Linked DNA regions of Homo sapiens: region 2 is reported to be linked to region 1. Evidence: microRNA targets listed by miRTarBase, many of them from high-throughput screens and not tested one by one. Region 1 holds a microRNA gene; the other region holds the end of a gene's coding sequence.

What was found. Region 1 holds the annotated microRNA hsa-miR-3941 (UUACACACAACUGAGGAUCAUA, at 1,566-1,587, shown strand). A microRNA usually pairs through its seed, bases 2 to 8, with sites in the 3' UTR of a target mRNA and lowers its output. Matches are read on the target gene's strand: a 7mer-m8 pairs with bases 2 to 8, a 7mer-A1 pairs with bases 2 to 7 and ends in A, and an 8mer does both.
Region 2: miRTarBase lists CCDC169 as a target of hsa-miR-3941. Seed matches in the 3' UTR shown: 7mer-m8 at 888-894.

Annotation. Positions count from the first base shown.
Region 1 is chr10:122,415,459-122,420,531 of GRCh38, forward strand. MIR3941 (microRNA 3941) reads left to right here and starts at 1,507; the gene lies at 1,507-1,609. PLEKHA1 (pleckstrin homology domain containing A1) reads left to right here. Exons shown (of 12, transcript NM_001001974.4): 7 at 401-544; 8 at 2,442-2,510.
Region 2 is chr13:36,226,668-36,231,740 of GRCh38, reverse strand. CCDC169 (coiled-coil domain containing 169) reads left to right here. Exons shown (of 8, transcript NM_001144981.3): 8 at 449-966. The coding sequence ends at 548. CCDC169-SOHLH2 (CCDC169-SOHLH2 readthrough) reads left to right here. Exons shown (of 16, transcript NM_001198910.2): 6 at 4,360-4,393. Among named protein-coding and RNA genes, the nearest start is that of SOHLH2, 15 kb to the right of the region's middle.

The DNA of each region.
Region 1 (5,073 bases):
TAAAGTTTGTGGGTTGTGCCAATGTCCATTTCTTGTTTTTTGATAATGTTACGCCGTTTCCCTTTGAGGGGAAACTAGTGAAAGGGTACATAGGACCTGTTGTACTTTTTTTGGGCAGCTTCTGGTGAATCCTTATAATTATTTCAAAATAAAAAGTTAACTCCTTCCCCAAAAAAGAGCACTGGTGGCAGGACTTGTGCAAAACAAGAGGAATGGAAATTTGTGCTTTAATCAGTGACAGGAAAATTAAGAGTAAGTATCTCAGATTAATTAGAAAACTCTTCAAAAATCTGTTTCTGACTAATCTAAGGTGGATTTTAAGATTTTCTACTGGGATAATATGAAATAAAAGTATGCTAAACAAGCAAGAAAATAATTTATTTATTTTGCTTCATTTTAGAAAGAAGAAGTAAATGAATGTGGTGAAAGTATTGACAGAAATAATCTGAAACGGTCACAAAGCCATCTTCCTTACTTTACTCCTAAACCACCTCAAGATAGTGCGGTTATCAAAGCTGGATATTGTGTAAAACAAGGAGCAGTGGTGAGTAGCTTAACAAAATACATGAAATAATGAAAAAGGATTACGTTCTAGCAAACTCAAATTAACATGGAAATTGTTTGCTTTATTTTATGAAAGACCCAAAGTGAGAGACCGGCATGCTGAGGAGAGTCAGGAGATAAAATAGGGGATATTCTCTGTTTATAATTCAATGCTGTTATTTGCTTGGTTTGCAGGGGGCCAGGAAAGTTAATGCCCATTACCACTGACTTTCAGTTTAAATGAGCTTTCCTAACAGTTTAATGTTTTAGAAAGTGTTTCTATTCATCTTTACTCATACTCAGGAGTGGGTCAGGGAAAGAGAGCTGTTGTGGGGAGATGGCAGGCCAGCGGCAGGAGAAGGAGTGGTGCCTAGGAGGTCTCTTCCTTGTTTAGGCATTGGCCTGACCTCCGTGGTAAGCTCTCTGACCTTGGGCTACTTACTTAACCTCTCAGGCCCTCAGTTTCTGTCTTAAGGAATATCATATAAAACCTACCATCTAGGGTTTTGTTTTGTTTTGTTTTTGTTTTTTAAGAGATGTAAATAAGAAAGGTGTGTTTCCCTTTGCACAGCACCTGGTACTTAGTAAAAGCTGTTATGGGTTAGCCCAGGTATTCCCATATAATCAGTTCCATGATGAATTTTTTGCAAGAGCAAGTAAATTTACCAATATTTCTAAGGTTGCAACATACCTTAGTATCTAAGCCATTCTTTCTATGTGAACTAAATCTTTAGAATTTCATGAGAAAATTAACTTTAAAGTTTGAAAATGTTTTTTAAGTCTGTGAGTAAAGAAATACTTAAAATTATTTTGGTGGTTCTGTTTGACTTCTCATCACTTTTTGGCAACTCTTAATTTTTTTAGGGCAGCCAGGGGAATGTCCTTTCACCTGTTTGACCTGCTTTAGGCTGAGGAAAATGATGGTGAGGGCAGGGGTTTCTTACTGTACAATGTCTGCAGGTAGAGTCAGAATTCTCATCAGGCTGTGATGCTCAGTTGTGTGTAGATTGAAAGCCCTAATTTTACACACAACTGAGGATCATAGCCTGATGGTTCCTTTTTGTTTTACTCTTAAGTCCAAAATACCAGTCAGAGATATTTAAGTGCTTCTGCAAAAACTGTTATTTTATTGACAAAAAATATTTGTACAAAATAGGTTTACTTTATTAAATATTTAGTGCTTTACTACTATGTATAAAGTACTTGTGGAAGAATTCATATGTTTTTACAGATGGAGAAACTTGATGTGGTTTAATAACATTTCCTGTGTTTGCTCTTTACATGGGGTTGGCGGGGGCGAGGAGTAGGAGGAAGGGGAAGTGCTTTTAAAAAAAAAAAAAGTTTCAACATTAAAAATATGAAATAGGCCAGGCATGGTGGCTCACGCCTGTAATCCCAGCATTTTGGGAGGCCAAGGTGGGCGGATCACCTGAGGTCAGGAGTTTGAGACCAGCCTGACTAACATGGTGAAACCCTGTCTCTACTAAAAATACAAAAATTAGCTGGGCATAGTGATGGGAGCCTGTAATCCCAGCTACTCGAGAGGCTGATGCAGGAGAATTGCTTGAACCCAGAAGGCAGAGGCAGTGAGCCGAGATCGCGCCATTGCACTCCAGCCTGGGTGACAGAGCAAGACTCTGTCTCAAAAAAAAAAAAAAAAAACACATAAAATCATACAATAAAAGATGAAAGCCAGGCACCAGAAATTGAATTAGGAATTCAAAGCCTGGGTAGCTAGAGAGGGATGAGGTTTAATTTATCGCATCTCTAAGGGAAGTAATGAGATTTTTCACTGCTTGGCATGTCTGATTGTGGGTTCATATCAGGGTAATTAAGTGGTGACTAACATTTGACATTCTTAGAAACACAAGTCTTATGTCTGTGTTCATCTCTGGTAGATGAAAAACTGGAAGAGAAGATATTTTCAATTGGATGAAAACACAATAGGCTACTTCAAATCTGAACTGGTATGTTGTTACGTCATAAATGTTGCTATAAGAATGTTTGAAAAGTGTTGCAATGTAGTGATTATATATAATTTCTTGTACTGTTCTGTAGTTTCAGAATAAGTCTAGTTTTTAGAGGTAAATATAGTTTATTTGGTTGTGATGCTTTTGGTTAATGATATTTTTCTTAAATACATTTTTAAGTAAAAAGATCCTATCTTCAAAGCAGCATTCCACCTTGAAAGATCTGAAGATCTCAGAATCCTCTAGTCTATAAATTTCCTCTAAAGGGGCTGTCCTCTTGGGGGGTTAGCCCCACGTGGAGTAGGGAGAGAAGGGCATCCACATGGGGAAGGGGTGGTGGCAGAGATGGGAGAATGGTCACATACACAGTGATTTATAAAATCAGGAACTATATTAAGTATAATAGAAGCCAAGTCTTTTCAGAGAAACAATACTTTTTGGTGAATGAATGTATATCTGTATATATGATGAGGAATGAGATATTTACATAGTTTCAAAGTACCTATCTACTAAAATAGGTATTAAGTATTGTACAAGGGGAAAAAGAGTAACATTACAGTGAGGAAAGTGGTGTAAAGAATTCTGTCTGTAAAAGTCAATATTTAACCCTCTGTATTTCTTTCTCTTGAGATTTTCTTTACCTATTTCACATTGACTCATAAATCACTTCACATAAGATGTTTTTATCTTCCCTGAAGGTAGAATCAGAAATTGAAATTCCCTCTTCGCCTTGTTTGAGTTGCATCCTTATTTAAAATATTGTAGGGTGATCTGAGTCCTGAAATAGCTTATTGGAGACATTGAATGCAATTCTGTAGTATAAATGTCTATCCTACGTCTTCTTTTTGTATGGGATCTTTGAGAAGGGAACTTATACTTTGTTTGAATGAAGTCACCAGAACAGCATTGTCCATTAGAACTTTCTGCACAAATGGAAATGTGCCGTATCTGTATTGTCCAAGGGCACTAGCTACATGTAGCTGTTGAGTGCTGGAAATGTGGCTAGTGTGACTGAGGAACTGACTTAATTTCATTTTAATTAATTTATATTTACATCATTACACACAATGGCCACTGTATTGGCCAGCAGAGCACTAGTGTATAGGAAGGGGATATTTTAAGATTCACCTCAGGAGTCAGCTCTTCTGGGAAGCTTTTAGACTCTGGGTTAAGTGTCTTCTCTTTATATGCCCTGTGGTACCCTATGCATACTTGTATCATAATGCTCTTCCCAGAGTTTTGCAATCACGTGCATTCTTGTCTTTGCAACTAAATTAAATGAGCTTCTTAAGGGTAAAGACTCTTGTAGTCTTTTATGATCACAGGGCCTGGCACTTGATAGACAATAAGTGTCTTTGAATGAATGAAAAATGGCATAGCATAGCAAGAAATGCCATTTTAGTATGGGGCTTTCTCAAAGCTTAAGAGCCTCAACTGGAAGTAGTAGTTACTTGGTTCAGAAAGTACCTGCCTTGTTGTCTCAGGAGGCTATCCTTGTGCTTGGTTAGCAGGTTGTCTCATAGATTTTATTTAAAGCCAATACTCCCGGGAAGAGTCATTCATGCAGCAGACATTCATTGAGCTCTCCATGAACCTGGTGCACTGTTCTGGGAACTGAAAATAAAAGAGAATAATTAGCAAAGTTCTCTGGCCTTCAGGAGTTCAGTTTTGGTGGGGAAATTGACGTGTGCCCCCATCATCAACAGTAGTTTTAATAATTAGGAATATTTTTAGTATTTAGAAATTGCAGATAAAGCTGAAAACCTTTAAAGGTCAGTAATTATAACTATACTTAAGTTTTCCTAATTTTACGGAGTATAGTTTATCTCCTATGGTAGTTCTTTGTTCTTCCTCTCAAATTTCACAGAATAATGCCCAGCATACAGGTTTTCAAAACTTAGTATTTCTGTAATAGTTCTTGTTTCAGCTCCCCCTCCCCCAGTTTTAACATTTCTGAAATCTTAGCAGTATGTCTTAGAGTTGCTAAGGACGAGGGGCAGCCAGGCTGCAGCTGTGCTGTAGTTGACTGCTTGCCATATGCACAGTACCTTTGGGTAAAATCCAGAAGACACCGGCATCAGCATGTGCAGAAAAGGGTGCTGGCAGCTTGGGAGGAAATCTCAGGGACACCATGAAACATTCTTAAATACTGCATCACCAACACTCTTTTTGGCACAAAGAATGGCTTGGAGTGAAAAATATGGACATTGGTGGCTCCAAGTCAAAAAGTGATTCAGAAGATCTGGAATCTGAATGTGAAATCTTAAAAACTATAACCAGTTTATCTTGTCTATATTTTTCTTTTTTATATATGCTCAAGAATAATATATGATAAAAATGTTTAAAGTGTAAATGGGCTCTTTTATAAAACCTTTTCATCATGGAAAAGTGTAAACATACCCTTTTAGTAGATAGAAATAATACATGGAACCTGCATATACCCATCACCTAGATGTCATAATTGTTAACACATGGCTCAGCTTGTCTTGTTTCTTCTGTTTCACCACCCACTTCCTGCTTCATATTTTGAGGCAAATCCTAGATGTCTCCCATTTCATCT
Region 2 (5,073 bases), not on the chromosome of region 1:
GCTGCCATCACCCCCTAAGAAAGTTTTTAGGAAATTGAAGTGGCCTTTAACTCTCTCAAGTCAGAGTGTAAGGAAGGTTGGCTTTTTAGTGCCACATAAGTCATTAATGGAAAAAGGATCTCATGGAAATCTAAGAAAAGGAATTCACGGATCTGTCTTATCCTCATTAGACAGAACTTTCCACATTAGGGCACCTGACATGCTGCTTCCAGCCTTTGAATTACCTGCCCTTAAGCTGTATGCCTCTGTAGCGGTGGAGATGATGTGCTATAACAGAAGGCTGCCTAAGATTTGCACTGTAAGCAGAAACTATTCACAGGAAGGTTTCCGTGTGAAGGTCTGTTGGGGGGAACAAGGTGCAATATACATTTCTTCCTGTGTGGCCTATAATGTTTTTGTTGTACATAATGGTGACTGAAAAATTATGATTAACACTTATTTATTTCAGTGGAAGATATAATCCAGCTAAGCAGAAGACAGTGAGTGCCAAGAGAGGACCAGTAAAAAAGATTACAAGACCAAACCATCTTCCAGAACTCCATCCATGATTCCAGAACTGGATGGATTTCTATTTCTTCCTTTTTTTTTCCATTTATAATATTCAAGTTATAAAGTTAATGGTCAGCACATTTCTTCAGGGAATAAAATAGATAAGAACTGCCACATTTTTCTTTAGTTCCTTTTCCAGACGTGTGTTCCTTTGTCTGCATAAAAGTAATTTTCTCCAGTGACCCTAAACTATGTAATAGAAGTGCTTGAGAGTTTTAAAATATCCTAGGGAATCTGAAGGCTGGCATCATTACACTTGCTTTCAATAATATACCCATGATCTGCTCTGATAGTAACGTTGCTATTCTATTTGGTTTCTAGTTGACTGTTAGCAAAAAGTGTGTATTCATAAAACCTTTTTGCCATTTTGGGCTGGATCTTGCTCAGTTTTTTAAATTGCAGGTTTAAACAAAGCCGAAAATCAAGTCCATTTTAAGTTTTGACTTGAAATATTATGGTATCGTAGAACAACCTTCAATCTTAAATAAACTTGTTTGTAGTCTCCACTCTGCCATGAACTTAGGAGATCTTGGGCAAGTCCCTTCACCTCATGTTTATTTCCCACACCTGTAAAATGATTGAAGCAAAACTATACACTTTCTGAGGTTTTTACAATTCTAGAAAACCAATATTTATTCAATCATAAGGTCCTACCACTTACTTAACACTGGTGATTTAAGTCATTTTGTGATGTGTGGTAATTCATAGTGATGGACTAATTCTTTAGACCAAACTGCAATTGTTCACAATACTCAAGTCCAGATGTGGAGATAGAATGAGGATAAGAAAAGAGTTCTTTTGAGGCATTTATAAAATGTATTGAATCCTCTCATTCATGGTTAGACTGTTTTTGTCTTTTAGATAGTTTTTGTAACTGTCACCTAGGTCCGGAACATATAACTTATTTGTCCACTTTAATAAGTGAAATCATTGGACTTCAGATTTATAGAAATCACCTAGAGGTAAGTATAGTTTCCAGCTAATGGTGTTCTCACCCTATATCTGGCACTAAACCTAAATTCTATTATGTATCACCAGTAATGAATACCAAGTGCATTTCTGTAACTTCTTCTATAAAAGTTTATTTTCTTTCCTTAAGGAAGAATATATAAATTTCATGTAGCCAAAAATATTTTAAGTAACTTTAAAATGTAATGTGGAAAAATATAAAGTAACTTTCTATAAATCATTCTACATTGGAATTATTTGTAAATATTTTCCCCTATTCTTTAGCTAACTATTAATATTAGGTGCCTTGACCCATATCATTAGACAAACATTAGATTTTTATGTCTTATACCATCTTTCTCAGCATTAGTAGAAAATTAATAATTTAAATAATAATTATAGGCCAGGTGTGGTGGCTCACACCTGTAATCCTAGTACTTTGGGAGGCCAAGGCAGGCAGATCACTTGAGTCCAGGAGTTTGAGACCAGCCTGGCCAACATGGCAAAACTTGTCTCTACTAAAAATACAAAAAATACAGTTAGCCTGGAGTGGTTGTGCATGCCTATAGTCCCAGCTACTCAGGAGGCTGGGGCATGAGAATCACTTGAACCCGGGAGGCAGAGGTTGCAGTGAACTGAGATCATGCCACTGCACTCCAGCTTGGGAGACAGAGCAAGACTCTGTCTCAAAAAAAAAAAAAAACATTATTATAATAATTATAATTATCAATGAAAAATAAACACATTTTTTCCTTACAGAGCTAAGCTATTGTGGGGACTATTGAGGAACATTTAAAGTTATCTCAATCACTGGGATAAAATATCAGTTGAACATCTTATCACAGGGACTCTATTACATTTAAGTGTTGGTTCTGCAGGAGCTACTTTGGGATACTTTTCAGATACCATAAAATGTCTGTATTAAACAGAATGATGGAATGTTGAGAGAGTATAAAGAACTGAAATGAGGGACTCCAAGATCTGTATTCTAATACCAGTTTTGCCACTTATAAGCTTCTGACTTTGGTAAATAACTTCTCATATCCTCAGTTTTATCCTTTATAATTACTGCCTTGAGATTGCTGTGCAGATCAAGGGTACTTACCACATATTTATTTCTTTACTTCTTTATAGTCTCTTTCCCACTAGAAGGGATGTGAATTAGCTTTTACTAATATAGAGGTATCAAAAAATACCTACAAGATAAAAGATGAAAATAAAAATTAAAATTTAGCAAGAATTTCCAACCAAGAAAAGTTTTAGTTTTAAGCTTTCTACCAGTCAGTGCAAAGAAGCAATGACTGCTTTCCTTTGTAGAAGGAATATACAAGTAGAGAAAAAGTTTTATCCAGTTCTAAGCTCTGAAAATAATTTTGTCATAAAGAAAATGCAATTACTGGCTGGACATGGTGGCTCACACCCCCTGTCACTTTGGGAGGGTGAGGCGGGTGAATTGCTTGAGCCCAGGAGTTCCAGACCAGCCTGAGCAACATGGCAAAACTCCATCTCTACAAAAAATACAAAAATTAACCAGTTGTGGTGACACGTGCCTGTAGCCTAGTACTCAGAAGGCTGAGGTGGGAGGATCACTTGAGCCAGGCCAGGAGGTTGAGGCTGCAATGAGCCACTGCACTCCAGCGTGGGCAACAGAGTAAGACCCTGTCTCAAAGAAAAAGAAAAAAAAATCCAATTATTTGTTGCAATAACCACAGCAAAAATGACAGTTTAGGGTCTTTGATACTCAAATATGTATTGACTTCAGTAGTTGTTTTCTTTCATTGGAAAGTTCAGAATTCATAAAGCAAAACCATCAGTAAAACAATATATATTAAAAAATTTAAGATATCTAAATGTATTACAAAATATCAAGACATACCATTTTTAAAAACAAATATTGCCATAATAAAAAAGACAGATCATGAGTATTGACATGAGTGTGAAAAACCTGGAACCCTCATATGTTGCTGGTGGGGATATAAAGTGATACAGCCACTTTGGAAAACTGTCAGTTCCTCAAAAGGTTAAACATAGAGTTACTATATGACACAGCAAGTCTCTTCGGTATATGCCCAAGAAAAATGGAAACCCATGTCCACGTAAAAACATGTACAGGAAGGTTTGTGGCACCATTATTCAAATAGTCAAGAAGTCGAAACAACTCAAATGTTCATCAGCTGATGATTGGGTAAATAAAATGTAGTATATTCCAACAATGGATATTATTTGGCAGTAGAAAGGAATGAAATGCTGATATATGCTGCAACATGGGTAAACCTTGGAAACATTATCCTAAGTGAAATAATGGAATAACAAAAGACCATATATTGCATAATTCCATTTATATGAAATGTCCCAAATAGGCAAATCCATAGAGACAGAAAATAGATCAATAGTTGCTGAGGGTTGGGGGAAGGTCGGTGATGGAGAATGACTGCTAATAGGTACAGGATTCTTTTTTGGAGGGATGAAAATGTTCTAAAATTGATTGCAGTGACAGTTGCACAACTCTGTGAAACTAATGAAAACTATTGTATACTCTAAGTGGGTTAATTGTATGTTTTGTGATTTATACCTCAGTAAAGTTGTTGTAAAAATGTTAAATATACATTAACATTTTAATATTAGTAGATAAATGTTAATGAAATATTATTTGATCTTTCTCAATAATATGATCCTAAAAATACAAAAGTGCATCATCACTAGTGCTATCACTGGGTATAGAGCTTTTATTTATTTATTTATTTTTGTGTATATGTGTGTGTGTGTGTAAAAATACAATAAACTGGTTGGAATATCTGCTTTATTAGCATATTTGTACCTTCGCTGTCCTTATTCATGTTCTATTCACATCTCTTCAAACAGCCTCCTCTTAAAAGAAGAATTGGACCCTTTAAAGGTCAGCTGCTTGGAGACATTGGGTTTCAGTGCTGCAGGTGTGGCTGGACCAGAGAATAGGACATGCCTCGGACAAAAAGCACTCTGGCCCGCCTGCTTACATGGGTCCTCAACCTTGGCTGTGTGTCAGACTCACCTGAAGAGCTAAAAGTAAAATACTCAGACATGTGCACCACCCCCAGGATTGTGATCTCACATGTATTTCTTTAAGCCTCCCCCAGGAAATTGTACAGAAAAGATTGGGACCCACTCTGCTGGTTTAGTGTGGCTTCATCTCTCAAACTGAATGAAACTTCTTCCAACTCTCCTCGAGCTGACTTCACCTTGGTCTTTTTATTTTTACTTTTTTACAGTGAGAGATAAGGATTTTATTTTTTCTTCGTTGTTATTTATTTCAATTTTTATTTTAGATTCAGAGGTACCTGTGCAGGTTTGCTATCGTGGTATATTGTATAATGCTGAGATTTGGGGCACAAATAATCCCATCACCCAGGGACTGAGCATAGTAGCCGAAAGTTATTTGTCAATGTTTGCTCTCCTTTCTTCCTCCACCCTCTAGTGGTCCCCAGTGTCTATTGTTGCTGTCTTTATGTCCATGAGTACCCAGTGTTTGGCTATCACTTGTAAGCGAGAACATGCAGTATTTGGTTTCCTGCTTCTGTGTTAATTTGCATAGGAAAA